Linked DNA regions of Homo sapiens: regions 2, 3, 4, 5 and 6 are each reported to be linked to region 1. The links are microRNA targets in miRTarBase. Many come from high-throughput screens and were not tested one by one. Region 1 holds a microRNA gene; each other region holds the end of a gene's coding sequence.

Evidence for each region. The annotated mature microRNA hsa-miR-655-5p reads AGAGGUUAUCCGUGUUAUGUUC and lies in region 1 at 990-1,011, shown strand. An mRNA with a match to its seed (bases 2 to 7 or 8) in the 3' UTR can be bound and repressed. Matches are read on the target gene's strand: a 7mer-m8 pairs with bases 2 to 8, a 7mer-A1 pairs with bases 2 to 7 and ends in A, and an 8mer does both.
Region 2: miRTarBase lists ARMCX6 as a target of hsa-miR-655-5p. Seed matches in the 3' UTR shown: 7mer-m8 at 2,256-2,262.
Region 3: miRTarBase lists SEC14L5 as a target of hsa-miR-655-5p. Seed matches in the 3' UTR shown: 7mer-A1 at 1,685-1,691 and 7mer-m8 at 845-851.
Region 4: the mRNA of PTCD3 is a reported target of hsa-miR-655-5p. Seed matches in the 3' UTR shown: 8mer at 1,149-1,156 and 7mer-A1 at 177-183.
Region 5: the mRNA of TMEM196 is a reported target of hsa-miR-655-5p. Seed matches in the 3' UTR shown: 7mer-A1 at 2,816-2,822, 7mer-A1 at 2,726-2,732, 7mer-m8 at 1,779-1,785 and 7mer-A1 at 1,359-1,365.
Region 6: the mRNA of DSTN is a reported target of hsa-miR-655-5p. Seed matches in the 3' UTR shown: 8mer at 530-537.

Annotation. Positions count from the first base shown.
Region 1 is chr14:101,048,583-101,053,180 of GRCh38, forward strand. MIR655 (microRNA 655) reads left to right here and starts at 968; the gene lies at 968-1,064. MIR381HG (MIR381 host gene) reads left to right here. Exons shown (of 3, transcript NR_104192.1): 2 at 2,485-2,687; 3 at 3,020-3,213. MIR544A (microRNA 544a) reads left to right here and starts at 76; the gene lies at 76-166. It overlaps MIR487A (microRNA 487a), which reads left to right and starts at 3,864; the gene lies at 3,864-3,943.
Region 2 is chrX:101,612,381-101,617,444 of GRCh38, reverse strand. ARMCX6 (armadillo repeat containing X-linked 6) reads left to right here. Exons shown (of 3, transcript NM_019007.4): 3 at 679-2,320. The coding sequence starts at 825. The coding sequence ends at 1,727. Among named protein-coding and RNA genes, the nearest start is that of ARMCX6, 3.1 kb to the left of the region's middle. RefSeq lists an enhancer at 3,274-3,836.
Region 3 is chr16:5,013,863-5,018,926 of GRCh38, reverse strand. SEC14L5 (SEC14 like lipid binding 5) reads right to left here. Exons shown (of 16, transcript NM_014692.2): 16 at 1-4,068. The coding sequence ends at 3,957. Among named protein-coding and RNA genes, the nearest start is that of NAGPA-AS1, 17 kb to the left of the region's middle.
Region 4 is chr2:86,137,400-86,140,399 of GRCh38, reverse strand. It overlaps PTCD3 (pentatricopeptide repeat domain 3), which reads right to left. Exons shown (of 24, transcript NM_017952.6): 24 at 1-2,931. The coding sequence ends at 2,841. Among named protein-coding and RNA genes, the nearest start is that of SNORD94, 3.0 kb to the right of the region's middle.
Region 5 is chr7:19,718,813-19,723,876 of GRCh38, forward strand. TMEM196 (transmembrane protein 196) reads right to left here. Exons shown (of 5, transcript NM_001363562.2): 5 at 503-3,322. The coding sequence ends at 3,316. LOC107986774 (a long non-coding RNA gene) reads left to right here and starts at 3,206. Exons shown (of 5, transcript XR_001745112.2): 1 at 3,206-4,330.
Region 6 is chr20:17,606,939-17,611,680 of GRCh38, forward strand. It overlaps DSTN (destrin, actin depolymerizing factor), which reads left to right. Exons shown (of 4, transcript NM_006870.4): 4 at 99-2,981. The coding sequence ends at 208. Among named protein-coding and RNA genes, the nearest start is that of DSTN, 39 kb to the left of the region's middle.

The DNA of each region.
Region 1 (4,598 bases):
GTGTGTGTTTGTGTGCGTGTGCATATGAATAGTTGGCTAGAGTAGTGTTTCTCAAACTTTAAAAATGCTCCTAAGATTTTCATCACCTAGGGATCTTGTTAAAAAGCAGATTCTGATTCAGGGACCAAGATTCTGCATTTTTAGCAAGTTCTCAAGTGATGCTAATACCGCCGGTCTGTGGACAACACTCACAGTGGTTTGGGGCTGGAGACCAGGTGCTTTCCCTGTGATATGTGTCGCCTGTCTCCCCACATGCCATATACCGTCCATCGTGGGAGAACGGCCCAGAATCAACGTGCCATGTTTTGGTTTGTGAACAAGGGTTCACTTTCACATGCGTAAATAGCATGAGATTACTTTTCTTTAAAATCAAATCATGCCTCAAAGGGCTTCCCAGATACAAGACCTGCTTCAGGGAGGGGCCGCCGGTGTCAAGCTGCTGCAAGATTGTCGGGTGCAGGTCAACGGCACGCTTATTCATTATTGATGTGCTGGGCCCTGGAATTCTGTGACCCTCCGTTTCCAAGCAGTCATCGGGAGGAAATTCCAGGAACTGAGACCATCTCTGCGGTAGGGACCCTGTCTTCAGGGATCAGTGACACCCCATTTTATCGGAAACAGAATTCTTCATGATGGCTTTGCTTATCTCTGACATGCATTCTGCTGGTTCTCGTCATCAAATCCCGTCTTTCAGGAATCCGTGGAGGAAGCTTTCATATATTTTTAATGGAACCTGCCTTAGAAGTCTTTCTGAGCATGGTTCCAATGTCAGGGTTTTGACTTTGGTGCCAGGGCTGCCTGGGCCCTGAGACTGAGGTACGGGAATGGAAGGTCAATGCCAGTACGTGTGCTTTCTTTGCAGGATGTGAACACCTCCCTGCCCCAACCCTGGGATTCAGCTCATCCCAAGAAGAATCTTCTGGAAGCAAAGACAACGGTGGGGAAGAGGCCATGGTTTTCGTTTCAGAACTATGCAAGGATATTTGAGGAGAGGTTATCCGTGTTATGTTCGCTTCATTCATCATGAATAATACATGGTTAACCTCTTTTTGAATATCAGACTCTGCCTCGGAGGGCCGCCCCCACAGGAGACGTGAGAGTGTGTGCCTTGTGTGAGCTGAGAGCCCCTGCCCCGGCTCCGTGCTGCGTGAGGGAAGCTTCCTGGAAGTGAGGCTGGTGGAGGGAAGAGCCCTGGGTTGCTTTGCTGTGTTTGCTGTGAATGCGATGTGTTTTTGCGAGTTATGTGAGGTTCCCTCCTCTTTGAATGCCAACTTGTGCCTTCCCCCAGTGGCTGGGTCTGTGGCTTAGCCACAGGGCTAGGTCCCTTCCTGGACCCAGTGCTTTTCAGGGTGGGTCCCTGGGGGCAAGGACAAGGTTTACCACTCCACTGGGACACTTGAGGAGAGGTTAACTCCTCCATGCGGACTCCTTTGAGGACAGCCTGTTTTCCTCTCAGGGTGGCTCCCTGGATGAAGTCCAGCACCTCTGTGGGTGTGTGAAGGGCAGGCCGACTTGGGCTGTGTTCCCACTCCTCACCCAGGTCACTGGCCCAGTGCCACTTCCTCCTCAGGTCAGCTTCCCTCTGCCAGCCGACCTGGTGGGGTCTCCTGGTCCATTGCTTGGTGCTCATAGACACTGGCACGGTGCCAGGTTCCCTTCACTCCTTCCCGATGGAGACCATGCAGCTAATGAATCTTCGGCTCTGTGATGCTGCCTTGGAGGGCTTCCTGCACACAGCACCTGGTTTGAGAGGAGAACACGGACTCCAGCGTGTCCCCTGGTTATGGAGAAGGGAGGCTGTCCTTGATCCCCCGTTTGGTGGATGATATAGTTTGGCTGTGTCTCCACTCAAATCTCATTTTGAATTCCTTTGTGTTGTGGGAGGGTCCTGGTGGGAGGTAATTGAATCAGGGGAGTGGGTCTTTCCCTTGCTGTTCTTGTGATAGTGAATGGGTCTCATGAGAGCTGATGGTTTTATAAGGCAGAGTTTCCCTGCACAAGGTCTCTGTTTGCCTGCTGCCATCCACGTAAGACCTGACTTGCTTCTCCTTGCTTTCCACCATGACTGTGAGGCTTACCCAGCCACGTGGAACTGTAAGTCCAATTGAACCTCTTTCTTTTGCAAATTGCCCAGTCTTGGGTATGTCTTTATCAGCAGCCAGAAAATGGACTAACACAGTGGAGGGCAGTGGCACCAAGCCCCGCCCCCTTCAGGATGTGGTCCCTGTGTGGGGCAGCATCCTGGAGTGGCTGCAAAGCCCCACTGCTCTCTGCCTCCGTGGCTTTGTCCTATCTGAGGTGGCCAGTGCGCTGGGGTCCCTGTGTGGAGTCAGTTCTTTATGGGTGCCTGCAGGTGCCGGCTTCACAGTAAGAAAACTGTCAGCTTCGCCTGAGGTATGGGCACAGAGGTGACGCAGGGATATGAACTTTGTTGACGAATGTGTTCTCTGCACAGCTAACCCAGAGAATTCATTCCACCCTCAGGAGAAGCCCTAGAAGTGATACAGGCTCTGGCCGGGGGACCCGATGTGCTCGTGTCGCGGCGTGGGGCTTGGTGAGGAACCACCGGAGTGCTCTTGCATTTTTCATGACAAAGACCACACAGTTGGCCTCATTCCTGCACAGTGGGAGAATGTGTGGAGGTGTCCCGCCACCAGAGAGGAGGTCTATGTCAGCACCATCACCAGGTACCTGGGGGAGGGTCTGCTGACGATGCCCAATGTTCAATGGCCCAAGCAACCCGTCCTTGGGGGACTTCTGGGCAAGACCATTTCGGTGCTCAGCCCCACTCCGTGTCCCAGGCAGAGAGGGGGCTGAATTGATGATACCTATTAAATGGGTCATTAATTCTCATTATCCATGCAGCCTGCCCATGAGGGTCCCCCAGAAGGGAGGGCAACTCCGGGGAAAGGTTCTGGCCATCAGCACGAGGCCACGATCCAGGAGGTGCTGCAGAGCCAGAGGCCACAGGACAGATTATCAAGCCAGGTCACAGGCTTTCTCTGTCCTTGACCCTCAGCATCCAGGCTACCTACAAGAGGAGGCAGGGGGACTCCTCTGACACACCTGGGGAGGTCTCGTCAATGGCAGGTTCCCTCTACAATGCTTTCTCTGCTGCAAATGCAACTCAGCATCACCTCTTTCCTGGATATAATTCCAAGGAATTATTAAAGGAGGCATTGGTGTCAGCACCTCGTGAAATACTCGTAAGGATGACCCATGGCAGAGCCTGTGTCTTCATTGGAGTAAGACTCACATGCTGTGGCCTCCAGGCTCTGGAGGCCTCGGGGGCAGAGCAGGGTTGAGGCTGACCGTGGGGCCTCGCCTGGGTTTGTGGCTTATCATATTGGACCACTGTTTTTCAGGACAAACTCCCCGGAGATGTCCCCTGGCAGGACCCTGACCTGGAGGCAGGGTGCTGTCCATGATAGGGGAATGGATGGTTGATCAGAGAACGTACATTTTATAAATGGTGTATGTCAGTTGATCCACAGTCCCTACCTATCCAGTGACTTCTGGAGGCCACATCAGCTCAGAAGACAAGGTGGTGGTTTCCTAGGCCATGCTATTTTCTGGCACTTGAAAGGACCTTCTCCTTGCCGGGTTTGCTTTCTTTATGCCCAGTCTCATGAGGGAGTGCCTTTTTTGAGTATGGATCTTGCTGGGGAAGCTTTCTGGAAGGAGCTGTTGCCCTTCGTCCCTCTCCAGGGGCAAGAATGCATGGTTGGCTGGAAAGCAAGGGCTTGATTGACATTGTGCACCCCTCAACTCTCCTAACCCTCTGTCCCCAATTCATCCTCAGGCGGACTAGCTGGAAGGAAGGCAGACTCTGGTGAAGACGTGGGCCGTCACCGTCAGCCTTCGGTACTTGAAGAGTGGTTATCCCTGCTGTGTTCGCTTAATTTATGACGAATCATACAGGGACATCCAGTTTTTCAGTATCAAATACTGCTTTGGAAGGCTTCCCGGACAGCGTCCCGCCTTCAGGCAAGGGGTCTTGGCTTCACCTCCCACCCAAGGTATGTATGTGAACGGGCCATCGCAGTGCACTAGCTTCTTCATGTGCCACAGCCATGACCAGAATCGAATCTCTGAGGAAGATGGTTACTTCTAAGGCTGTGATTTTCTGGAAGGGGCTTTGGTGTCTGCACTACATTATTGGGGGAAGTTGACCAGTGAGAGGCCCATTCACACAAGACGTCTGTCACCTGCTCCAAGTGACCCTCACCCTTGGTAAGATGAATCTCTGGAGACATGCTGGCTCGGTAGTGTTACTGTCATCAGCCGGACTGACTGATAGGTAATTGGTCATCATTATTGCTTTTGTTCCAGGGCAGAATTTTTGAGTGCCAAATCTTGCCAGGGAAGGGTTTCTGGAAGCAGCACCGCCCTCTGGGGAGACTTGGCATCCACATCTGTTGGAGTTTGTGGAGAGTTAGTTGAGCAGTCTGAGCTTTGTTTCTGAGGCGTCTCCCTGAGCTCACTCTCCTGCCAGAGCTGTGTCCTGCCCATGGCCATAATGGCTATTGAGAGGGTTGGTGACTTTGGCCACCATGATTTTGTTTCGATAAAGTTCTCTCTTTTTAAAAAAATCAGAT
Region 2 (5,064 bases), not on the chromosome of region 1:
CTGGGATATGAGAGGGCCAGGTCCGAGTCGCCCTCTCCTGGCCCCTTCTTTCTCCACACCCACTCCCATTTCAGTGCAGGGAAAGGGGTGTGGCGGCCTTTGCTGGGGAAATGGCGGACGACAAGTGGGGCGGAGGAGGCCTGCGTCCGGAAAGTCAGTAGAGTATGAGAAATATTTTAAACTCAAGTGTCTAAAATTCACAAAAACAGAAATTGGGACCTGTGTCCTCAGTTCATCCACTACACTTTCATTTCTCCATTGCCGCCTACCTGTCTTTGCATTTGTCCTTCTGCCAGACTCTATCCTCTATCACCGTGGAGGGACCACTGACAACAGAAGACAAGGGAAAACGAAGGAATTTATCTGACTTTGGTAGAGGTTAATGAGAGAAACTGCCCTTAATCTTTGGGGGTGGAGGTCTGGTGTAGGAGACTACCTGAGAGGTACTCACACTGTCACCCTCCTAGCTATCATAGCAGAGACCCATCTCCTGCCCTTCCCTGTGGACCCAGGAAGAGAAATGGGGGCTCCTGAGGTCGATAGAGGAAGACAGAAAAGAAAAGAACAAAGAAATTGTATCCTGTTAATCTGCCTTTATCACCAACTCGAAATCCACCCTGTCTGTGAGGCACAAAGCCAAACATAGTCCCGAGCCCTAATACTCTGTTTCACCCACAGATTCATCACAAGAGAGCTACAAGAGCCTGGAAGAAGCTGAAGACTGCTACCCTCCATCCTTACTCACCCTGGACCTGAGAGACCTCTTCAATCAGGTGGAGCAAGGCCCTCTCCTGTCCTGCCCCAAGGCTGGCACAGACTTGAGCATGGGCCGGGCTCGGGAAGTGGGTTGGATGGCGGCAGGACTGATGATTGGGGCTGGTGCCTGCTACTGCGTTTACAAACTGACCATAGGAAGAGATGACAGTGAGAAGCTGGAGGAGGAGGGGGAAGAGGAGTGGGACGATGACCAGGAGCTGGATGAGGAGGAGCCTGATATTTGGTTTGATTTTGAAACTATGGCTCGGCCCTGGACTGAGGATGGGGATTGGACTGAACCTGGGGCCCCAGGTGGCACTGAGGACAGGCCCTCAGGGGGAGGCAAGGCCAACCGAGCACACCCAATAAAACAGCGGCCATTCCCCTATGAACATAAAAATACTTGGAGTGCTCAAAATTGTAAAAATGGCAGTTGTGTTCTGGACCTCTCCAAGTGTCTTTTCATTCAGGGAAAACTGTTGTTTGCCGAGCCCAAGGATGCGGGCTTTCCATTTAGCCAGGATATCAATAGCCATTTGGCCAGCCTCTCAATGGCTAGAAACACGAGCCCCACTCCAGACCCCACTGTTAGAGAGGCTTTGTGTGCCCCGGATAACTTAAATGCGAGTATTGAAAGTCAGGGCCAGATTAAGATGTACATCAATGAAGTGTGTCGGGAGACTGTGTCACGTTGCTGCAACTCATTTCTGCAGCAGGCCGGATTAAATTTGTTAATAAGCATGACAGTTATTAATAACATGCTTGCCAAGTCCGCTTCAGACTTGAAGTTTCCTTTGATATCAGAGGGAAGTGGATGTGCTAAGGTTCAGGTTTTGAAACCGCTGATGGGTTTGTCTGAAAAGCCAGTCTTGGCGGGGGAGTTAGTCGGTGCCCAGATGCTCTTCTCATTCATGTCCCTCTTTATCAGAAATGGAAACAGAGAGATTCTCCTGGAAACCCCTGCCCCATAAACGGCCCTCTCGAACACAATGGGACGGAATCCACCCACAACGCGCTTGGTTTGCAGATGTCAAAGAATCTGCAGAGGGTGCTACTGAAGATCCAGCCTTAGCCAATCACCACCTCATTGGGTGAAAGTTCCAGGGCTCAATCCAGGACCACACTCTTATTGGCCAGGCAGGGGCTCCCACAGAGCTTTGAGTAACTTCTTGGTTGTGCAGTCTGCAGGCAATGTTGGCATTGTAAATTCCTCCCTTGCAGCCTCCTTCATGTGGTGAGGGGATCACTTCAGCTGCCTGCTGTGGACAAAGAACATCAAATTACAGCATCACGAGTGCTATTGTTGCCTGTGGTGGTCTCCCTGTCCAAGCGGGACCGCTTTGCAGAGACCAGAGGCATATCGCGGCTTGAGCTGAAAATGCATTTGTTGCAGCTTAGGTTGAATTATTTTTCGTTTGCTCTTTCTTCTACACGCGCCTGATGGATAGTGAACCTATTCATCAAAAAAGTGCACTGCTCTTCTGTCTATTGTACCGACTTAACCTCTTCCACCCAAGTCCGCATCTGTGTGTATCATCAATAAAGTTGTGTGCTTTGATTGGCAGAAAAGAGTCATGGTCCTTGTCCTTGAGTTTACAGTCTGCACGGAGAGAAGGACAAAAAAAAAAGCACGGTAAACGCCAGCTGACTGGAACGTCTGCTCCGTGACAAATGCAGGCTTATCGGTGCTCACAGGAGGCAGGGATAGAGAGGGGCTGCAGTGCTCAGAATAAACTTCAAGAAGGGGCTGGAGGCGGGGGTGGGGGAAGGGGAGGGGCACAGCGGGGGAGTTCGTGGAATTAGGATGGAATGTTGAGAGGACTGAAAGAGACAACACCCGTGGAGCAGGCAGCACCGTGCCCCGGCACAGAGAAATCCCTTCTTAATGTCTTTTCCTTGACTGCCAGCCTGGAGAGAAAGGTCAGTAACCCTGGCCTTTTCGATTGTCGGCGCATCCCGACGTGGGGATGGGGACCGGGGTGGAACGGGTGGGGGCGCTCTACCACGCATCGGGGCGCATTTATTGCACAATGATGGCGATAAAGGTTGCCGCTTGCCCAGCACCTACCCTGTGTAGTTCTATCCCTCCTGCGAAGCCAGGGGGAAATCTGCTTCCAGCCCTCCTTCTCTCTTCCTTGGGATCCCCAGCGCTACTTCCTGGCAGAGTGAGAGGGTTGGCCGCTGCTCCCTTTGGAGCAACCTCCTTTCTTCCATATCCCCACTACCTGTGGTGGGACCCAGGAAGGGGACAGTGGAGCCCTCCATCAACTACCTGCGGGGGTGATAGGGCAGATGCTGAGGGCACTTGGCACGACCGTGGCCACTCCATCCATCCGGAGACACCTCCACACTCTCCATCTGAGGTGCCTGCACCTTGCCAGGAAAGGAAGAGCCCGTGGGCGCAGAAGCACTCCATGGGTCAGGGCAGCTCGTTCTGCCCCGCCCCCACCTCCAACATTACCAGATCCCGCCCAGCAGGTTTAGCCCCTGAATCAGCAAAGCCAGGTTCCCTGCATGTTTGTGATGTGTCAAGAAGTGGTCCCCTTCCCTAAAGCCATGGCAAACCCAGTAAACACATCTGCTTCCCCTTGGGCAAGGCTGCTGCCGTGCCCGGTGCCCTCTCGGTCTCCCAGGGCTGCTGCTGTGGGTCACTGTGTCCTGGGCAGCTGCGATCTCTGTGGTGCTGGGCATTCTGCTTGTTCTGTTCCACACAGAACAAAGCTTTCTTTTCTTGTCTTATTCTCCCTTCCCCCCGCAGCTTGCCTTCCAGGTGGGTTACAACTTTCCTGCTTGTACCATCTGCCCCACAGTCCATGCTGGCCAGACGGCCTGAGTGCCTGCCGGGTCCCCTGACCAACTCTGGGAAACCCTCCCACCTGGAATGGGGACCAGACCTCTTCCCAGGCCCTGGTGCCTGGGATGGCCAACAAGTGACTTGCAGTTGTTGTGACACCACATCCCCTGTCAAGGCTCACACTGCTGGGGCTTCCTTGGCTGGCTCTGGGAGCCCTGTCCCGGTTCCTAAGGGTTCCTAAGAGCTGTCAGAAGGACCACCCTTTCTCCCAAGCCAGCCGCAGTTTGGCTGGGCAATCTGATTTCAAAGGGGATTTCCCTGCAGACAGCTCCGCATGCACTTTTCCCAGTGGAGCCTGCTTCGCCAATGCTGTCTTTAGTGACACCTCATTGCTCAGTCTCTTTGAGCACAAAGGCATCCTCCTAGCCTGTGGTCCCGAATTAGCATGCACCTCCCTACTTCCCTGCACGCTACCAAGTTTCCCTTTACGTGCGCTTGTCCACCATCGCTGAGGCACTTGACACCGTGAGGCCGCAGCTGAGTCCTAACTCAGGGAGCGCCCCAGAGGCTTTCTGCCCATCTCCTGAGCAAACTCTGTCACAGAAAAGCCCATCAGCGTCCAAGTGTCTCCACGGCGTTGTCTTGGCCCAAGTCAAAACCCTCCTGTCCATTTGCTGGCACTGCCCTCCCGAAAGCACTCACGCACAGCCCTTCTGTCCTGCCCCTCATCCCCTGACTGGTTGCAGTGCCTGGGTACGAGCCCAGTTCCCGTGGATTCTGCCTCCCTGGGATGCGCGGGGGGAGTCGGGAGCATGCCTGCCTCCCAGGGCCTGATCAAGACACTGAGAGGTTCTCAGCACTGGCAAGAGCGCCGGTGCCCCCATTCCATATGTAACGCAAACATAAAAACAGCCCTGAGCCATCAATCACAATGCATACCTGCCTGCTGCAACCAAAAGACAGCCTTTCTGGGCTTCCCCGTGGCAAACATTGGAAAAGGTCATCAATCCTGAGCTTGCCACATTCTGTGAGAAGTGCTCTGCCTTGATGGTGCCGCCCCAGCCTGAGCCCGTCTCTTGTGTCAATCTGGAACTGCCGCCACAGGCTGTCTTCCACCTCCAGAAAGGGCCCTCAGTTTTGCTTCTCATCTATCTTATGAGCACGTTTCCATTTGGTGCCTGTAGGCACTGACTGACTTCCAGACCAACTTCAGGTGCCCTCCCCAGCCTGCTGCCTCTCCTAGGGATTTTGTGGTTTGCCACCCCCACCCCGCCCCCCTCCAGGTGAGTGCACACAAGGTTGCAGACAACCAGCTTCCCGGCAGGCACGTCCTGTCTCAGACACGGGACCCTCACCGGGGTGCTATGTGTCACTCTCAAAGCAGTATCCACCACGATCCCCTTACTTTTAAGTGCCACCCTGGACCAGCATAGCCCTCACCCAGTCCGTCCCTCTGACGATGCACCACTGGGCTAAGAGTTGGGCAGCTGTGGCAAGGGGTTGCTCTTGCCTCT
Region 3 (5,064 bases), not on the chromosome of region 1:
GGCAAACAAAAAAACCCATCGTGTTTCACTGGCTCAAAGAGACTTTGTTGAAAACAATTATACTATTCTCATTGGACAATAAATTTTACAGCAGGGAGGGGGAATTCCAGAGAGTGCAGGGTAGAAAAAAAGAGTCTCAAACTCTCCATACTTCAACCTCTGGGAAAAAACATTTTCTAACTGCCAAGGGAAATACCACTCAGAATACACTCCCTCAGATGGGTGGACTTACCCAGAAAACACAAGCAGCTTCTTTCTTCTTTTTTTGAGACAGGGTCTTGCTTTGTCACCCAGGATGAAGTACAGGGGTGAGATCATGGCTCACTCCAGCCTTGACCTCCAAGCAATCCTTCTGCCTCAGCCTCCCGAGCAGCTGAGACTATAGGCACGCACCACCACGCCTGGCTCATTTTTTAATTTTTTGTAGAGACAGGGTCTCACTATGTTGCCCAGGCTGGTCTTGAACTCCTGCACTCAAGCGATCAGCCGGCCTCAGCCTCCCAAAGTGTTGGGATTATAGGCATGAGCCACCACGCCCCGCCCACACAAGCAGTTTCTAAAAGAGAAAGACTGCACACCCAACTCAGAGGGCAATAATTCTTGACACCTACTTTTCTCTGGGTGCAATAACGAAAAACAGGGATAGGCGACCTCAGGAAGAAAACGAGTCTTTGGATGCGAAGCATTAAGTAATCAGAATGACCACTGACATTAATGGAGCGCTTTCTGTGTTCTGGGAGCTGTGCTGAAAGCTTTACAGCTACTCCCTCATTTCGTCCCACTACAACCTATTGAGGTAGGCACTGCTATCCTCACTTTACAGATGAGGAAACTGAGGCACAGAGAGGTTAAGTCACCTGGTCAAGGTTACACAGCTAGTGAAAGGAAGGCTGGGGTTTGAGTCCTGGCCTAAATTCAAGGCCCAGGTGCCCAAACACCAACAGTAATGCTGCTTGTGGGTTGCTTCTGTCCTGGTCACAATGGATTAATGAACTAATGATGCAAGAAGCCCAAGCCAAGGCACTTCCAGCCTTTGTGGCTCAGGGGAAATTCAAAAGCCAAAAGCTTGGCAATCCCTTCCTTGGATTATTTTTAATTCCAGTCCTCCCGAAGGCAAGAAGAATGACCTTGATAATGCTTCCACGTGGGTCCCCGAGACCTCCACATGGGAGGAGAGCCGGCCGTAGCAGATGCCACCATGGATACCTGCTGGTTCTGTGGTCCAGCTTCTCTTGTCCATTGGGGGAATGGCCCTCCCCAATCCTGCTGCGGCTTCTGCAGGGAATGTCAATCACGGGACCCTAGTTCCTTGCCAGTGTGGCCCACAGGAATAAGCATGTGACTCGAGCTGGGCCAATCAGAGCCTTCCATGAGATTTGAGATGGAAAAGCATCTCTTAGAGTGTGAATCCTGAAATTATAGGCTTGGGGCTGCTGGCAGCCATCTTTCCCGCCAGGTGGAAGAAAGAATGAGGTCAGCATGCAAAGAGATGCAGAGTCAAGAGGCCTGGGTGCAGTTGAGAGGCCTGAGGACATTAAGCTCCTGGATCCAGCCATATCTGAAGCAGCACCCACCTTCAGCCATCCCTAGTACAGGACCCAGGGAATTTGCTTTGTTGCTTAAGCCAGTTTGGGCTGGTTTTCCCTAGGGAGAGAGCACTCTCAAGAGCAGAACTGAAAGGGCCTGAGGTTCCTCACCCCCACTGTTAAGGGTGGACAGCTGATAGCAGACTCCCCTCCCCCCACCCGCCTCTGGAACAGGCAGTTCCAGCTTCCTTCCGTAAAAGGCTTCTGTGTCCTTCTCTGGGGCTAGACAATAAATGTATAAAGACTGCCAGGGCAGCTTATCCCAGCATACTTGTAGGATAACACCTAGTTTTTAAGAGAAAAGCTAGAAATTCACTTAAAGATAGTTGAAAATATTGCAAGTTGCTCTCAGCAATAAATGCCTGGTGATATGGGAGCAATTAGTTTTGAGAACGTCTCCTTCCAATCAGTCGGTCTCTTATGCACACATGTGCACACACACCTTGACGCAGAGTGCAAAGCAATCTATTTTGTTCAGATACCTGAGAAGCGGACAGAGAGCCAACAGGAAGGTGGGCAAGGCTCTCTCCCAGCAGGAAGAAGGATGTATCTGAAAAGATGACACTTTCTCTCTTCCTTGGGTTTGGGGTTGAGGCTGGCGTAGATATAAGTTTCCTGGCCCTGCATTGCTGAGCCTGCATAAAGATGATTCTTGTGGCCACAAAACCACCCCTTGGCTCAGTTACTGCAGCAGAGATGAGCCCCAACTCTAAGCAAGGCCAGGAGACAAGGGTACCAGCCACTGCTGACAGAGCCATGTCAGTGAGACTCCTGCCACGCAGGTCATGAGGATGTGTAATGTGGGCTGGGCGCAAGTCAATGGGGTAGGGACTGGCGTGGCCACATCCAGGGGTGCAGAGGTGTTGTCTTCATGCAACAATAGTGACCCCATTCTGCTGGTGCTCCCAAATGCCTAAGGGAAGCCAGAAATCCTGATTTCGATGCGAAATGCCTCAATTTTTAAACCATTCTAAAGGCAAAAAAGCAACACTAAAAGCAGGCCAGATCAGGCTTCAAGTTGGTGACCCCTGACTGGCTGCCTTTTGGGGAGTCCAGGAAAGGAAAGGAGAAATGTCCTCAGGCCCCAAGGAGACCCAAGACGCTCCTGTGTAGTAACTAGGGGAACTCATGTCAATATTGAACCTAGTTCCAGAGTCATATCTGCCCCAGGGCAAACACAGCAGCCTCCACTCGCGGGGGGAATCGAGACTCCATGTTGAGACCCTGGATCTAGCCTTACCTGAAGCAAGCCCTCCTGGACTGGCCAGTTCTATGCACCCATGAATGATCATGCTTTTGTGTTGAAGCACCTGGGCATGGGTCTCTGTGGCTTACAACCAAAAACAGTCATAATTAAACAGTTCCCTAGGAGAGAAAGGCATCTCCAGTGGGGTATACAGACAGCCTCAGTCACCCCATCACTGCCTGGAACTTAGCAGAAACCCAGGGCTCTCCCACCCTCTCCAATCAGGGATGGTCAGGCTTAGGCCATGCTGGCCAAGTGCAGGGAACATGGATTTTCACTTCAGGATGTGCTGTTCCCCACAAAGAGCAGCGCCTGTAACTCACTTAACTGCTCACCAAGCACATCTTGATACTGCATAACAGAACGTTATGCAATCAGATGCCAAGGTAAACACCCTTCATTTCTGCCTCCCCAGCATCCTTCCTCCTTCTTCTTAGGGGGGACCCCAGTACTCCTCGAGGCACCCACTAGTGCTTTTGAGAGCAGGTGGTTGGTTCCAGAGATGTGCATGTGATCCAGGCTGGCCAATCACTGCACCTCACTGCAACCCTGGATCACGGTGATTGGTCCAGATTGGGCATGACCCTGCTGGCCAATCAGCATTCTCCAGTGTGCCTGGCAACTGTGATTGGTTCAGGAATTGACCTGGCAATCGCTCCCCCTTCCAGGCTAAGACTCAGCTCTGGGAAGTGGGCTGGAGCCTTTGGGAGGAAGAGGCTCTCTTATGCAGGCAAGCTGCAGGGAGGAGAAGGGCACCTGATAGTGATGGTCCCCTGCATGGCGAAAGCAGAGCAAGAGGTGGACAGAGAGGAGATGGGCCTGGCTGACGTCGCTAAGCCCGGATGTCCCAAAGGTGTGGTATGGTAGACACCTTGGCCTTGGCTTGGTCTTCCTTACACGAAGCCGGAAGGAGATGGTTCTGTCCTTGCAATTTCAAGAGCCCTGACACCACCCACAGGCCAGTTCTGGATCCTTGCCATCCGCTCCAGACACCCCAACTTGGGCAGCATCTAGGCCTGGGGCTCCAGCCCACATGGTCCCAGGCCCTGCAGTTAGCTGGCTTCTCATTCTGGACATTTCTGGACACTGGAGGCGAGCGGGCGGCCCTGAAACACTGGGCCCGGCTATCTGGAGACCAGGGAGCTGCTATGAGACTGGCCGGAGGAGGAGGACGAGGTGGCGGCGCTGAGCTGGGAGAAGCCGCTGGTGCAGGATTCCAGGCTGGACATGGAGCCCCTGGGGAGGAAGGGCGTGGCACACGTTACCCTCTCACAGTGACAAGGCCCTTGGGCTGACACACAGCAGTGGAAAAGCTGTTGATGCTGCAAATCAGGCCCCAGGGCCCCAGGCCGATGCAAAGGGAAAAGCAAGTGACGCCATGAAGAGAAAAGCACTACCGAATTCCCCACACTCCCATCTCCCCAGATGGAGCCCAGCCTGCCACAGACCCATCAGGGGCTCCCCTGGCCTGAGGCCCTTGCATGGCCCTAAGGCCGCCACAGCCCAGGGAGTCCCCGGCCCTGTCTCCAGTCTCACTCCCTCCTTACTCTTTGCACTCAAATTCCATGGTCCTCCTCCTAGCTCTTGCAGTGGCCTTCGTGTGCGCTGAGCCTGAGGCAGAAGCCCATTCTCTCCTCCCCCAGCTGTCTGGTTAACTCCTACTCCAAACCTCAGGGCAGCGCCATCCTCGAGAACTTTCTTTTCTTGTATAGAGACGGGGCTCTCACTATGCTGCCCAGGCTGGTCTCAAACTCCTGGGATCAGGAGATCCTCGTGACTCGGCCTCCCAAAGCACTTGGATTACAGGCGTGAGGCACCATGCCCACCCTCCAAGAACTTCCTGCGATGAACGTGCTGTACACCTGCACAGTCCAACACACCAGCCACTGGCCACATGGGCTGCTCATCACTTGAAATGTGGCCCATGCGACTGAGGCACTGAATTGTTCCTTTTATTTCATTCTCCTTGCTAAGTTAAATTGCTGCAGGTGACTAGCAGCGACCAGATAGGACAGTGCAGCTTTAGGGCCTTGCTACTCAAAGCATGGTCTGGGAACTGGCAGCACCAGCAGTGCCCGGAGCTTGTTAGAGATGCAGAACCTCGCCAGGTGCCATGGCTTACGCCTGTCATCCCAACACTTTGAAAGGCTGAGGCAGGGGGATCGCTTGAGGCCAGGAGTTTGAGACCAGCCTGGGCAAAATAGTGAGACCCCATCTCTACAAAAAATTTTA
Region 4 (3,000 bases), not on the chromosome of region 1:
TCACCCACAAAAACTGATTTCAAACCCTGCAGTTTGAAAGACAAATGCTACCCTGTCTTAGAGAATATGGGTACATAGCCAGTGACAGTACAATCTGACATCTTTTCCTCTAAGCCTAGTGCTTGGTATAGTGTTTATATAGCAGCTAACTGGTTTTTTTTTTTTTTTTTTTGCTTTGAGGTTGCTGAAAGGGGAGTCTGCTTTACTGTGGTTACGTTAGGACTTCTCGAAGTTCTGTTTCTTAGGCGGTCATATGCCCTACTTTTAGTAGCAACATGACTAAGGTCTCAAAATCAATGAATACTTTGCAGAGTTGGTGGCATTCATTAAGCATTTACTAAGAAGCACCTACGTGCCAGATTTGAGTTTGATTCTAGACATGTAGAATCTTTTGAGTGCCATCCAACCTCTTGAATACTTTGATGGCTATAAAACAACCCTCAAATGTTGAACCAAACTAGAAGTCTAGTTTCTGACTTCTACACATTGGTAATGTAACTCTGTGGCAACACTGAGCAAGTTTATTCCACATATAGTAAGACTCCCCTTCCCCTTCCCATTCCATGAGTCCTTAATCCCATTTGCTTTTTTTTTTTCTTGGAGACAAGGGTCACTCTGTCAACCAGGCTGGAATGCAGTGGTGCAGTCATGGCTACTGCAGCCTCAGCTTCCCAGGCTCAAGCAATCCCCTCCACCTGTCTCCAGAGTAGCTGGGATTACAGGCATGCACCACTACGCCCAACTAATTATTAAAATCTTTTGTAGGGAGGGGGGTCTCACTGTTACCCAGGCTGGTCTCAAACTCCTGGGCTCAGGTAATCCACATTGGCACCCTAAGTGCTGGGATTACAGGCATGAGCCACTGCACTCAGCCCCATTTGCTCTTCCAAAATTCTGGTTTCTCCAAGACAGGGTCTTGCTCTGTTGCCCAGGCTGGAGTGCAGTGGTGCAATCACGGCTCACTGCAACCTCCCTCTCCTAGGCTCAAACAATCCTCCCAACTCACCCTCCCAATTAGCTGGGACACAGATACATACCACCAGTCTGGCTTTTTATTTTTTTGTAGATCCGGTGTCTCACTATGTTGCCCAGGCTAGTCTCGAACTCCTGGACCTAAGTGATCCTCCCACCTCTGCCTCCCAAAGTGCTGAGGTTACAGGTGTGAGTCACCACACCCGGCCGAAGAGAACATTTTACTCATAGTAGAGGCTAAAGACTATGATAAAATAAGCATTTACAGAGAATGGAGACTCATCCTGTGAGGCCTTAATTTTTCTCTATGTTCAAGGCAGTTAATTGCTCAGAGTATGGGTTTGGAGGATCTGTACCACAAACTTAAAAGTACCAAGCTAACAAATCACTCATTTTGAAAGTCTACTACAAATTCATAGGCCATCTACCCAAATGGATTTTCTCCTATCAACTCTAGCTGCAGAGCAACATGGTGATTCAGAATAGGTGCCTGGATAGGAAGAGGCATACCGTGAATCTAAGGACTGTATTGAATAGTAAGGCTAACAAGAGTCAGGCATCTGCAGGTGCTGATGAACTAGAGACAGGAAGGGACCGAGTTAACATTTCAGGTGGCCAAGGCTCTCCTTGGAAGCTGTAAACCAAGACTGAAGGCTAATTTACTCTCTCTGTCCTGCAAATCTGCTTTGATATGGAGCAATACCCATGGATGCTTAAGTAGCTAGCTACTATATCGGCTTTTTTTTTTTTTGTCCCTCAATTAAATGCCTTAAGACCTGACATTCCAAGAGAAAACAAAAACCATACTTTGGTTTCTAAGGATGTATGACTGGGTCCCGGCCTTCAGAGGATGGCAGACAGATGGGAACACAAGTATAAGTAGACTAGAGTATCCCATAATTGTCAACTCTGGCAAGGTAAAGATGAAGCTGCTTATGTGGACAACTCGTGGGGTACCTAAGTAAATCTGGGAGCCAGGTACGTGCAAAGTGGTCAGTGGTAGAAGCCCTCATGAAGGCAGGAATGCTGCAAACCTCCACTTACTGCCTTCCAGGACCACTTAAGTCATAGTGGTAAGAGCTGCTAGAAGTAGTCGTTACCAACTTGATTACCAGCAATACACAATGATGTCAAGAAGACATTCCACATCCTTCTGTCATCACTAGCTCTCATTTCAACCACTAAAATAGGTAACAGCTATAGACAAAAAAAAAGGGAGACATGAAACATTCATGGCTGTTCAAGTTAGAAAACTATGGCAGCGGCTATATTAACAAAAATACAAACGTGTACACTAATTACAACATTTATCTACAGTCATTTTACCAGTTGTGCAGCCTAAACTGCCATTATCTTGTTTAGTCATTCCTAAGATGCGTTATTTCTGACATCGAAATATCCTGAAATTGGGAAACTATTGACCCAACCCCAACTGTGTTAGAACTGCATGAACACCTAAGATGAAGGACCAGCATCACAGCAGCACATCAGGCCAACAAAGGCAGAAGTCCAGCAGCAGGAGAGGGCAATCGCACGAGGACAGCATCGTGAGGTCAGCTCACCGACACTCTAGGTGTGCAGGCTTATCCTGATGACAAGAGCCATGGACCTCACCATGTGTCTGAAAACCGCAATGTTGCTACTTAAATGCTAAGCCTTTAATGGTGCATTAATAGATGGTTAAGTAGCATATTAGCAGCTTAAATCTACATAAGTCAGCTGTGTACTGACTGTACCTCACAGTAACAAATTCACCAAATCTGTATCTTTTCTTCTTTGTAACAATGTTAAATATTGGTATATCTCAGTTCTCAGGTGTGATTCCAGCAGCTATGGTGAGACCCATTGCTGCTCCTGAATCTCCACTTTCATTTGCCTTCACTGGTGTCACTGTCGCTGTCACTGCTGCTGTCAGTATCACTGTCACTGGTCAATGCAGTTAGATTACTTAGGGCTTCCCTGTTAAGAAAAGAAAATGGAGGATTACACTGCAATTCAACTGGGTGCTGGGGTTCTCGGTGTCTCTGA
Region 5 (5,064 bases), not on the chromosome of region 1:
GATAAGAGTGTCCTCCTGGGATTTAGTGGGTAGAGATGAGAGATGCTAAATGGCCTGAAATGTGTGGGACAGTCTGCATAATAAGTTATTATTCAGCCCAAATGCCAGTAACAACCAATTTGACAAACTCAAGTAGGCCTTCAGGGTTCTCTAAATATTGTGGTTTAATTTGTGACATCACCTGCAGTCTCTGTCCTACCATAGTAAATTCTGTCTCATATGATCTGTGTCTTATTTTCTCTTGCCCTCAGGGACTTCACATTCTTATTATAATCATTTTGTTTGATGGCTTCAACCAGTCTCTCTCTATACTTGAACATATTCTAGCTTTTGTATCTCAAATAATATTCTTATTTAATTCTGTATCCTTCGTCTGTGACTGTCTCTTTCCCCTCATTCACAGCAGGCCATCCCTTGCCACTCTCAGAATAGCATATTTATTCATGTAGCTATTGGGGAAGGTATTTCTGTATTATAATGAAAAGAAAGCCAACACCATATATAGTTTCAAAGCACATCATTTTATTATAGACATGTCAGTAGAGTTATCATTTCCTGTTCCACTTCCAAACCATTGTGTGTGTGTATATACACATATGTGTATGTATATGCATATATATACACACATACACATATATGTTTAAAATTTCCAAAGCGAGCCCAATTTTATTCTTTTATGCTTATAATACTCTACCTATTTGATATGGTCCAAAGTATACCACCACTCCAGTTTCACATAGTTTTTCTAATTTAGTATCACCTTACTTTCTTCCAAGGGTAGGCTCATACTAAAACTATAAGGTAGTCACTTAAAACATTCCAGCATGTGGTTCAATGTATTGTCCAAATTAAAGTTTCAAGCACTTGAACAATGTCTTCCTAACATCCCCCACTTATCTAAAAAAGAATCGCCGCACATCCCAAGTAAATCATTCTAAACTCAATTCTGAAAATACTAGGTAGAAATAATCATATTTAAAAATATATCTATACTTGGTTAAACATACACTGTAAACTATTTGAATAATTGTGATGATGGCATCTCTTTTTAACTATACATCAAAGCAGTGATATGTCTCCTTTTGTCCTTTAATGTGTTATGTTATAGATCAGTTCAAAAGGCATTACAACATTTTTCTGATGTATTATAATTTTGTATTGAACAAGCATGTTTATAGAGAAATGCTACTGAAAATTAGAGTCAGTGTTTATTCTTTCAGTACAAAACTACATCCTTGCATGAATTCAGGAGGACCATACACACACAAATATCTTCATGATGTAATTTAGATTTTCATTGGCAAAGATCATGCCTGTTTGTGGCATTGAATGAATAGTTATGATGTTGATTCACTATATGAGGTTGCATTTATGGACAACTTCTGTAATCTACTAGGCAATGAAGTTATCCAAAGGAATTGGGAGACTTCAAAAAGTGCACCAAACAAGCAGAGTCCAGTTATTTCTGTTGAATAGATGACAGCCAGAATTTTAAGTGAGCTGATTTAAATAGGTTAAACGATGATCATGTTGCTATAAAAGACCTTCAAATTTTCATTAACTTGAATGATCATTACTGTGTTAGCACAATTAAAACTCATGTTTTGTTTATAAATTATATTCTCATACTGAACAGTAAATATTTTAATTTACCTATGGTTCAACAAGTAACTCATAAAAAATGACTTGAAAATTGATTAGATTTGAGGAAAAAGAAAAGTATACAATATAGTGAGAGTTATGTATTTAAAAATGATAGATTTCTTTGTCTGTTGCCAGAGGTTATATTCTGATAAATATATTCAGATATATGTTGTTTTTTCACTTATATGTGTTGTTCTTGTTTGCTATTTTAACATTCCATTATTAGAGGAAAGGATTGAATCTAGCTATACAAATGTTAGCCTATCTTTTCACTTTTTCCTCAAAGAATTCTTTCAGGATCTTTGGATATAGGCTTTCTTATATATGGACTGCCTATATTATTTCATGAGAATCGTAAAACAAAACACCTAAATTAGATTACAGCAAAGGTAATTATAACTTCATTGTTGGGGGGTTACATCATCTGCCCTTTTGTATCATTTAACTGGACTGCAAGGTGTTTGAAATATCAATATCATCAATAATTTTAAGTCATGATATCTTTATAAATACGGAAGTATGTCATTAAAGTCATGTTCGTTTATAAATTAATTTTAATTGCTATACATAAATACTATAATCATAGTGAAATAGTCAAATAAGTAGTCTATCTGTATACTACACTATTCAGATCACTCATCTTCATAAATATCACCCACAATGATATTTACACAAAACCTAATTAAAAGAAGAAAAATGGGCAATTTTAGTAGAAATTAAACATGTGATTTTGTGGGCATAGAAGGGCCTTGAGCAATTGCCTTCCCATTTCTATTGGAGTAGAATCTTAATAATACCCCCACAGCATCACAATTTCTTTTCTAATACCTATTTACATTCATGTATGCTATAATATATGCTGTATACATGTTCTATATTTACAGTATGTATACACACATTCACACACATACTTTATTCTTAGGCTCATTCATGAACATGCAGATCAATCTGCACAGTATGATCAAAACATGTTTATTTTCTTAAATGATATTCACATATAACTTTTCACTCTTTGTGCAAAAATGCAAAAATACCATATAGATTAGTATTCTCTCTCTCTAAAAAGTCTCTTTTTTATGCTTGAGGTTTTTTGTCATTTACAAATAAATTATGAAATATATTTCATTCACAAGTTGAAAATAATTACAATGTTTTTATAACAAGGCATTACTGAGGTTTTGAATTGTAGCATCCTTGAAGCCATCTGTCTTTCAGAACAAAGACGTCAATAAGTTATTTTTATTTCTTGATATTTGCACTTTTCAATTACTCATATGAAATATGTCATTACAAATATAATAATCATGCTAGTCAAATAGTGTTTGTATAGAATATGCATTTTATTTCTGTTTTATTATCTCTTTTTCCTGAAAAGTCTTCTTTAGAACAATCTGGAAAGCCTCTTGAAATTATTGTACTAGAATGTTTCTGGAAAGTTTTTTACCCCATAAAAAAGGGTGGAGAAACCAGTGAGGCAATATATTTTTTAGGAAGAATAATTTTAGTGGATGCTCAGGAGAGATAAATGCAAATGCAAAAACTGTTTTATTTTCTAGTCCTTTGGTGTCTCATTGCCTCATGAAAATCCTAAAAAGTGTTCAATTCTTTAAAACATTGATTACACTCTTCCATTAAATATCAGCTGTGGTCCTCCATTGCTCATGTTGTCTGTTATTTCCTGTTAGAAAAATGACATGATTAATTAAAATTCGCTTTTGGAGTAAGACATTGTTTTGGTTAATGAGTTTGCAAAACAGAAATTTCAATCCATTGAAAAACTTGCTAAGTTTTGGGGAAAGACAAGGATATTGCTGTTATATTTGAGGAAATAAAATTTCATGGCATCTTGGAGCACATGCAAATGCCAAAGTAAGAGTCAGTTAGACCAAAATATTCTCTCCACAACAACGGTCCATTCTCTCCCCACTTTCCTGAGTTTCCTCTTTCTTTCTTCAACTCAATTTTGGAAAGACCTCACCTAGAAAGAAGAAGATGGTTAAATGCGCAAGTTTTTCTAATGCATAGACTCTGCTGAGCATGTCAACAAAGTGCCAATGCATTCTAGAGGTGACCTTTATTCTACAGGAAAATGTGTGGCCTTTTTGCTAAGAACAGAAAAAGGCCTACGAGGGCATCATTGCTCATTTGTAACTATGGATCACTAAAAAATCATAGTGGGAAAGATTGTTTTTCATGACACTATCACTCTTCCAGTAAGAAGCAAAAACAGTGAAGTCTCTTAACATGTTTTTAATGGATCAATTACTAAAAAGTTAATAAGTAAAACTATATAGAAAAGCACTGAAAATATAGATGCAAAGGACAAACTAGCATTGAAAGTTTCATTTTCAATTATATGAAATACATTATGAAAAATTTTGATGCTTTTAATTCATATGTTTTGTTAAATATTAAACCCTTCCCAACACAATAAAAAGTGATAGGATATGAAGCCCATTCATATTTTAATGGTTAGAGCACCATAGTAAAATTATGTTGATAAAATTATCTAAAAATAAATTGGCAGCATCTTTCCATGCTTGAACAAGCCTATTTGCAACAGAGCAGAAAAAAAAAATTAGAAGTGGAAATTATTTTCTCAATTATTTTATTTCTATATCTATTTCTATCTAGCTCTGTTTGGAGAATCTGCTAGAGATGTACATGGTGAAAGTCTCCTAGAGAGGTATGTGATGAAAAATCTGAAAATATATTAGGGTTATGTGCTGGAGTTAAGTTTATAGCTCAGAAATCTGATTTGAGGCTTCATTGAGGAACTCACCATTGATGGCAAAATAGGTAGAATCACCCCCCACCCCCAATGATCTTCAACAAAATTTACTTTTCCTGTTTTACCTACTAGGAGAAAAATCAAATTTCTAATAAATTTACATAAACCCGTTAGGTGCCTTTTCTCCTTCTACAATGACTTTCCACTCAAAAACTGCTTAGAAATGATAAAAAGTGAATCTGTTATATTAACCTTTTATTGCAGAATTTAGTAAAACAATTTTTTAAAATGTTACAAAAAAAGAATTTTCTTAACTGAATTCACTCTACCATAAACACAGTAAAATCACTGATAGGAAAGAAGAGTGAAAATTCGTTTTAAAATGAGTGAGTCTCCAGTTTGCAAAAAAATTTGCAAATAGGCATGCTTAATTTAATAGGAAGATTGTGGTTTAAATTTGGGCTGGACCAATGTGACTATTTGCAAATGGGCTTTCTGCAAATGGGCCATAGTATCCATGTGACTTTCTGTCTGTCCAATTACTTTGTTTGAGCAAACCAAGAACCATTACTATTTATTTTTAGCAATTTGAAACGTGGGAACTAAATTTAAAATGCATCACATAAGATAATTTTACAAGAAGAATCTTTTCATACCAAAATTTTACCGTATTAGTGTCCAACTTTGGC
Region 6 (4,742 bases), not on the chromosome of region 1:
TCCAGATTAGAACTGGTCTTTTAAAAGTTTGGTTATCTTAGAGAAAGAGGTAAACTGCTGCCATAATTGTAAATAGAAGTGTTGTTTTTTCTCTCTAGGCATAAAACATGAATGTCAAGCAAATGGACCAGAAGATCTCAATCGGGCTTGTATTGCTGAAAAGTTAGGTGGATCCTTAATTGTAGCCTTTGAAGGATGCCCTGTGTAGATTATTCAGTGCCACAAATTGAAAGCTTCCATGTTTAATGTTATCCTCTTGCTATATAAATAAAGCAAATATATTTAGGCCAGGGTCTCACTGAGGGGGAGCTGTCTTGTCATCTTTTAGAGTAAACTATTCTATAAACATATGCAAACAGCCCTAAATAAATCTAAAGTCTAAAGTTTTATTGATGTGAAATTAAATTCTTATTGGCCAAATGCCTGTTTTGATGAGTTGATTTATAAAGATTTTTGTTAAGCTCAGGATTTTAAATTACACAGTTCACAAACAGTAAAGGCCATGTGAAGAGAATTATTACATCTTTATTAACCTCAGCATTTACTTTGTTTCTTTTGCTTAGGAAATTGCTCATAATCTGGTTATAATTTTGGTCCAAATTCTTTATTCTTCCTTGAGCTAAGCAGAATAATGGAATATAATATGTCTTCATAATATAACAACACTAATACACTAATAGTAAGATTAAGTTAGGCAGTCTTCTACCAAATGTGTAATGGAGATTGCCTCAAAATTGTGTCCACATAATCCACGCTCATCTTGCAAAGCGCTATTTCAGGCACATCATTGGAATACAGGAAGTAGCCCTGCACCTGCCAGTGAGCTCGCCATTCACTGATTGGAAGAGTGACCTGGCATCTTGGAAATCATTGTGTGTCTTCAGGAGAATGTGCAGTGTCTTGTAACAACTAATTATAATGCAAATTAGGGCTACATTGTAATCTGCTTTGTTAATGAAAATGATAAAACAGAATATTGACAAGCTAGGACACCTGTGGTATCTTTAATTGTATCTCCTTCAGAAGTTTGCTTCTTATGGTATAATAAAGTATGGAAGAATATTGAGTATATGTTTACTCTGGGCCTGGGAGAACTTAACTTTCTAGAGCAGTTTGTTGACTTGTGTGCAATGGGGAGAGGTACCATGATGACACTCACAGGGAGCCACTGTTCACTGACACTTGGAAGCGGTCATTGTTAATATCACGGGCGTAACACTTTGAACGATATAGAGATGCACAAACAGTTGAACTTAGAAGTAGCAGTATTGGCTTTATGTAATAAAGGAAGCATTTTTGACTTACCTCTCGTGTAATTTTCATGTGTGAATTGGGAATACAGGATTTTGCCTTCCATATGGGGTAAGGCATTGAGGTTTGGGTATTTCCAATAATTAAGAGTTAAGGTTGGCTGAGTGTGGTGGCTCACTCCTGTAATCCCAGCATTTTGGGAGGCCGAGGCAAGAGGATAGTTTGAGGCCAGGAGTTTGACAATCAGCGTGGGCAACATAGTGGGATCTCATCTACTAAAAATAAACAAAATTAGCCGGGTGTGGTGGTGCACGTCAGTAGTCCCAGCTACTTTGGATGCTGAGGTGGGAGGATCACTTGAGCCCAGGAGGTGAGCTGAGATCGTGCCACTGTACTCCAGCCTGGATGACAGAGCAAGACCTTGTCTCAAAAAAAAAAAAAAAAGTCACAACTCCCTCTGGTGAATAAGAAAGTTGGTGTAAAAGTTGGGAACGTTTTCAATGTTTATTACACTATAAGTGTAATAAATATTATACAAAATTATAAATTCACATTTAAAATTTAGAAAATAGAGAAAAGGGAAATTATACATTGTCCTACCACATGCCATCACATGGTTAGCATTTTGATACACAGCTGTGCATTATTACATGTCAAAGACTGCATATACTATGGTGGTCCCATACAATTATAATGTATTTTCTACTGTAATTAGATACACAAATACCATTGTGTTACAGTTGCCGACAGTATTCAGTATAGTAACGTGCTGTCCAGGTTTGTGGTCTAGGAGTAATAGGCTCTACCATACAGCCTAGGTGTGTAGTAGGCTATGCCACTAGGTTTAAGTGCAGTCTAGGGTGGGGAACATTTTAATGTTGATCCACATGCCAGGTGTTTGTGAGACAAGATTATGCTTTAATCAAAATATTTTGGAATTGTCTAGAAAATAGTGCTGGCTGCTTGTCATTCATCCTGAATTGCTTGTTTCTTTACTTTGTAGCAATGCTTTTAGTGTGGGTTTTGTTTTTTGAGACAGGGTCTCACTCTTTCCCCCAGGCTAGAGTGCAGTGGTGCAATCATAACTCACTGCATCCTTGAACTCTTGGGCTCCAGCAAGCCTCCTGCCTTGGCCTCCTAAAGTGCTGTGATTACAGGTGTGAGCCACTGTGTCCTGCTAGTGATTGTGATTAACAGGCCTCCAGGGAAGTGCCATAAGCCCAAGACTGCCGTACTCAAAAGTCAGCCATGTAGGTAAAGCAAGATATTTGGTCAAGGAGTTTTAGAAGGAGATTTTTCCTGTGGTGTTGGCTTAAGTGTGGCACTGTTGTGCGTGTGTGAGGTGTCTTCTGTGGGAAGGATTTCAAACAGTACAAAGGGATGTGATGTAAGCATCCAGAACTCACTCCAGAAATTGAATAAAATGCTAGTAGTTAGTCTCTAGGGGAACTTTTGAGAAAGTCTCAGTGGATTCCTGAGGCCCAAGAATTGTGCTAACAAGCACTCAAGGCGATTCTGGTACATAATTAGGGTTCAGACCTCAGCTGATTGGTCTACTGTTGGTCAGGAACAAAACTGCAAGTATACTCTGTTTCCAGAAAATACGTTTACCTCTTCACAAATGCTAACACACTGCAAAAATATGTTTGTGGAAAGCTGACTTAGTCTCATCTAGCGGTTACTCTCTTGCCCTGACAAAGCAGCAAATAAAGCCATTGCTAACAATTCAATCAGAGCTTGACTGTGAAGTTATCTCAGATAATATTACTCTGCAAAAACAGTGGACACAGTGACTTGGATAATAGGTTTGGTTTGGTGGTTTCCTTTCTGCAGAGTACCGGCTGCCGCAGGCACAGCAAGTGCAACTTGTTTCTTGACTATAATTGCCCTTCGGACCACCAGAGACTGAATATGCCCAACACGCATCACTTCTTCGTGATTTGGGGCATTTCTGAAATTGAGAACGGGCTCTAGACTGGGTTCCAGCTGGACTGCAGCTGGAAGGGACAGTAATGGCATTATGGCTGGTGAGGGGAGTATTCCAGGAGCCAGGGTTTCAGTGGAAGGCAGGCTTGAGTACCGTTTTGTTACTGAGGGCTCTCTGGGTTCTGCACAGTCCCAAAAGGGCACTGGGGAAGGGACTTATGGAGCCTCTGGCCAGTACCCTCAGTAACCAGCCCAGAGGTGAATTAACTTGCCTAAGGTTAATCGACTCACAAGTGGCAGAACTGGGACAAAAACTCAGATCTCTTGGTTTCTGTTCCTGAGCTATTTCCACCACCTCAGGAGAATTCACTTCATTCCTCTTATTATAATTGGATCATCTTTCCACATTTCTAACATCTGAAATTCAAAGGTTAGACCTTGTTCAGTGCTGGGGTGAGATTTGAAAGGGCCAAGAAGGAAAGCATTTCTTTTGCACTCTGAGCTCTCATCAGACCCAGCCCTGAAGGAAGTGTAGTGATGGCATCTGTGGAGGGCGTGGAGTGGCTTCTAGAACAAAACCTCGCTTTCCCCGCACCTGTCCCTCAGGCCTCGCTGGCTTCCTGCCTTCACTGCACCGCTTCCGTAGGTGTGGCCTGCAGGCGCAGCATCGTGGTGCCTGTGTGTTCCAGAATATCACATGGAGACACCTGAGGAAGCTGGTCAGGGCGCAGCTGTCTGTGAGGGGCTTCAGGTCTTGTTGTGCTGTCTATGGGCCATGTTAACCTGGAACTTCACATCTACTCTGTGGGCTCTGATCCATCTTCACCCAGCGGCCCAAACCCAGGGTCTGGCTTTGTGAAGCTGGGCCAGGGAGGAGCAGTGGTTCCTCTGTCGGGCAGCAGCTGGGTGAGTCCTGCCTCCACGGTGAACTTCATTCCAAGAACAGCACAAGCCAGTCCTCTGGTGCTGCCTGAGCTCGGCTACAGCTGCAGGACAGGGCTGCGAATGGCCAGGCCAGTGACCTGTGCCACGCTGGGGAATGCTGTGGGGCTGGGGGGGTGCTGCTAGCCCCTTCCGCAGGAAGTTTGCGAGGGCTGCGCCTCAGCTGGCTTCCCTGGAGCCTGACATGGAACCTGGCCTGGGACAGTTGAGGAGGCCCGGCCCACCTGAGGCAGGGCCCAGCCGGTGGCCTGGCAGACTCAGGCTCCCTCTGCCCACCTGGGAGGTACCACTGCCGGGCCTGAGGACTGCTCTGGCCCTGCTGGGGCAGGCGGGGACAACAGATGATGGGCCCTTAGAACGAGCTGCAGGAGAAAAGCTCCCAAGTGGCATTTTCCTGAACTCCCAGGCCAGCCGCACAGGAGTCCTACACCCTGTGCTACCTGCCTTCGGCTTCCTCCCTTCTGCATGCACAGACCTGGGGCTCCCAGCAGGTGGCCTGAAGGAGCAGGCTTTTAGCCAGAGTCCAGGAGGAGGCCACTGCCCCTCACAACCCAGAGGCGGCAGCGTGGCACCCCAGCATCCCTTGTCTCTTTCCCCAAGGTCTCCCCTTTCCGCTGCTCAAA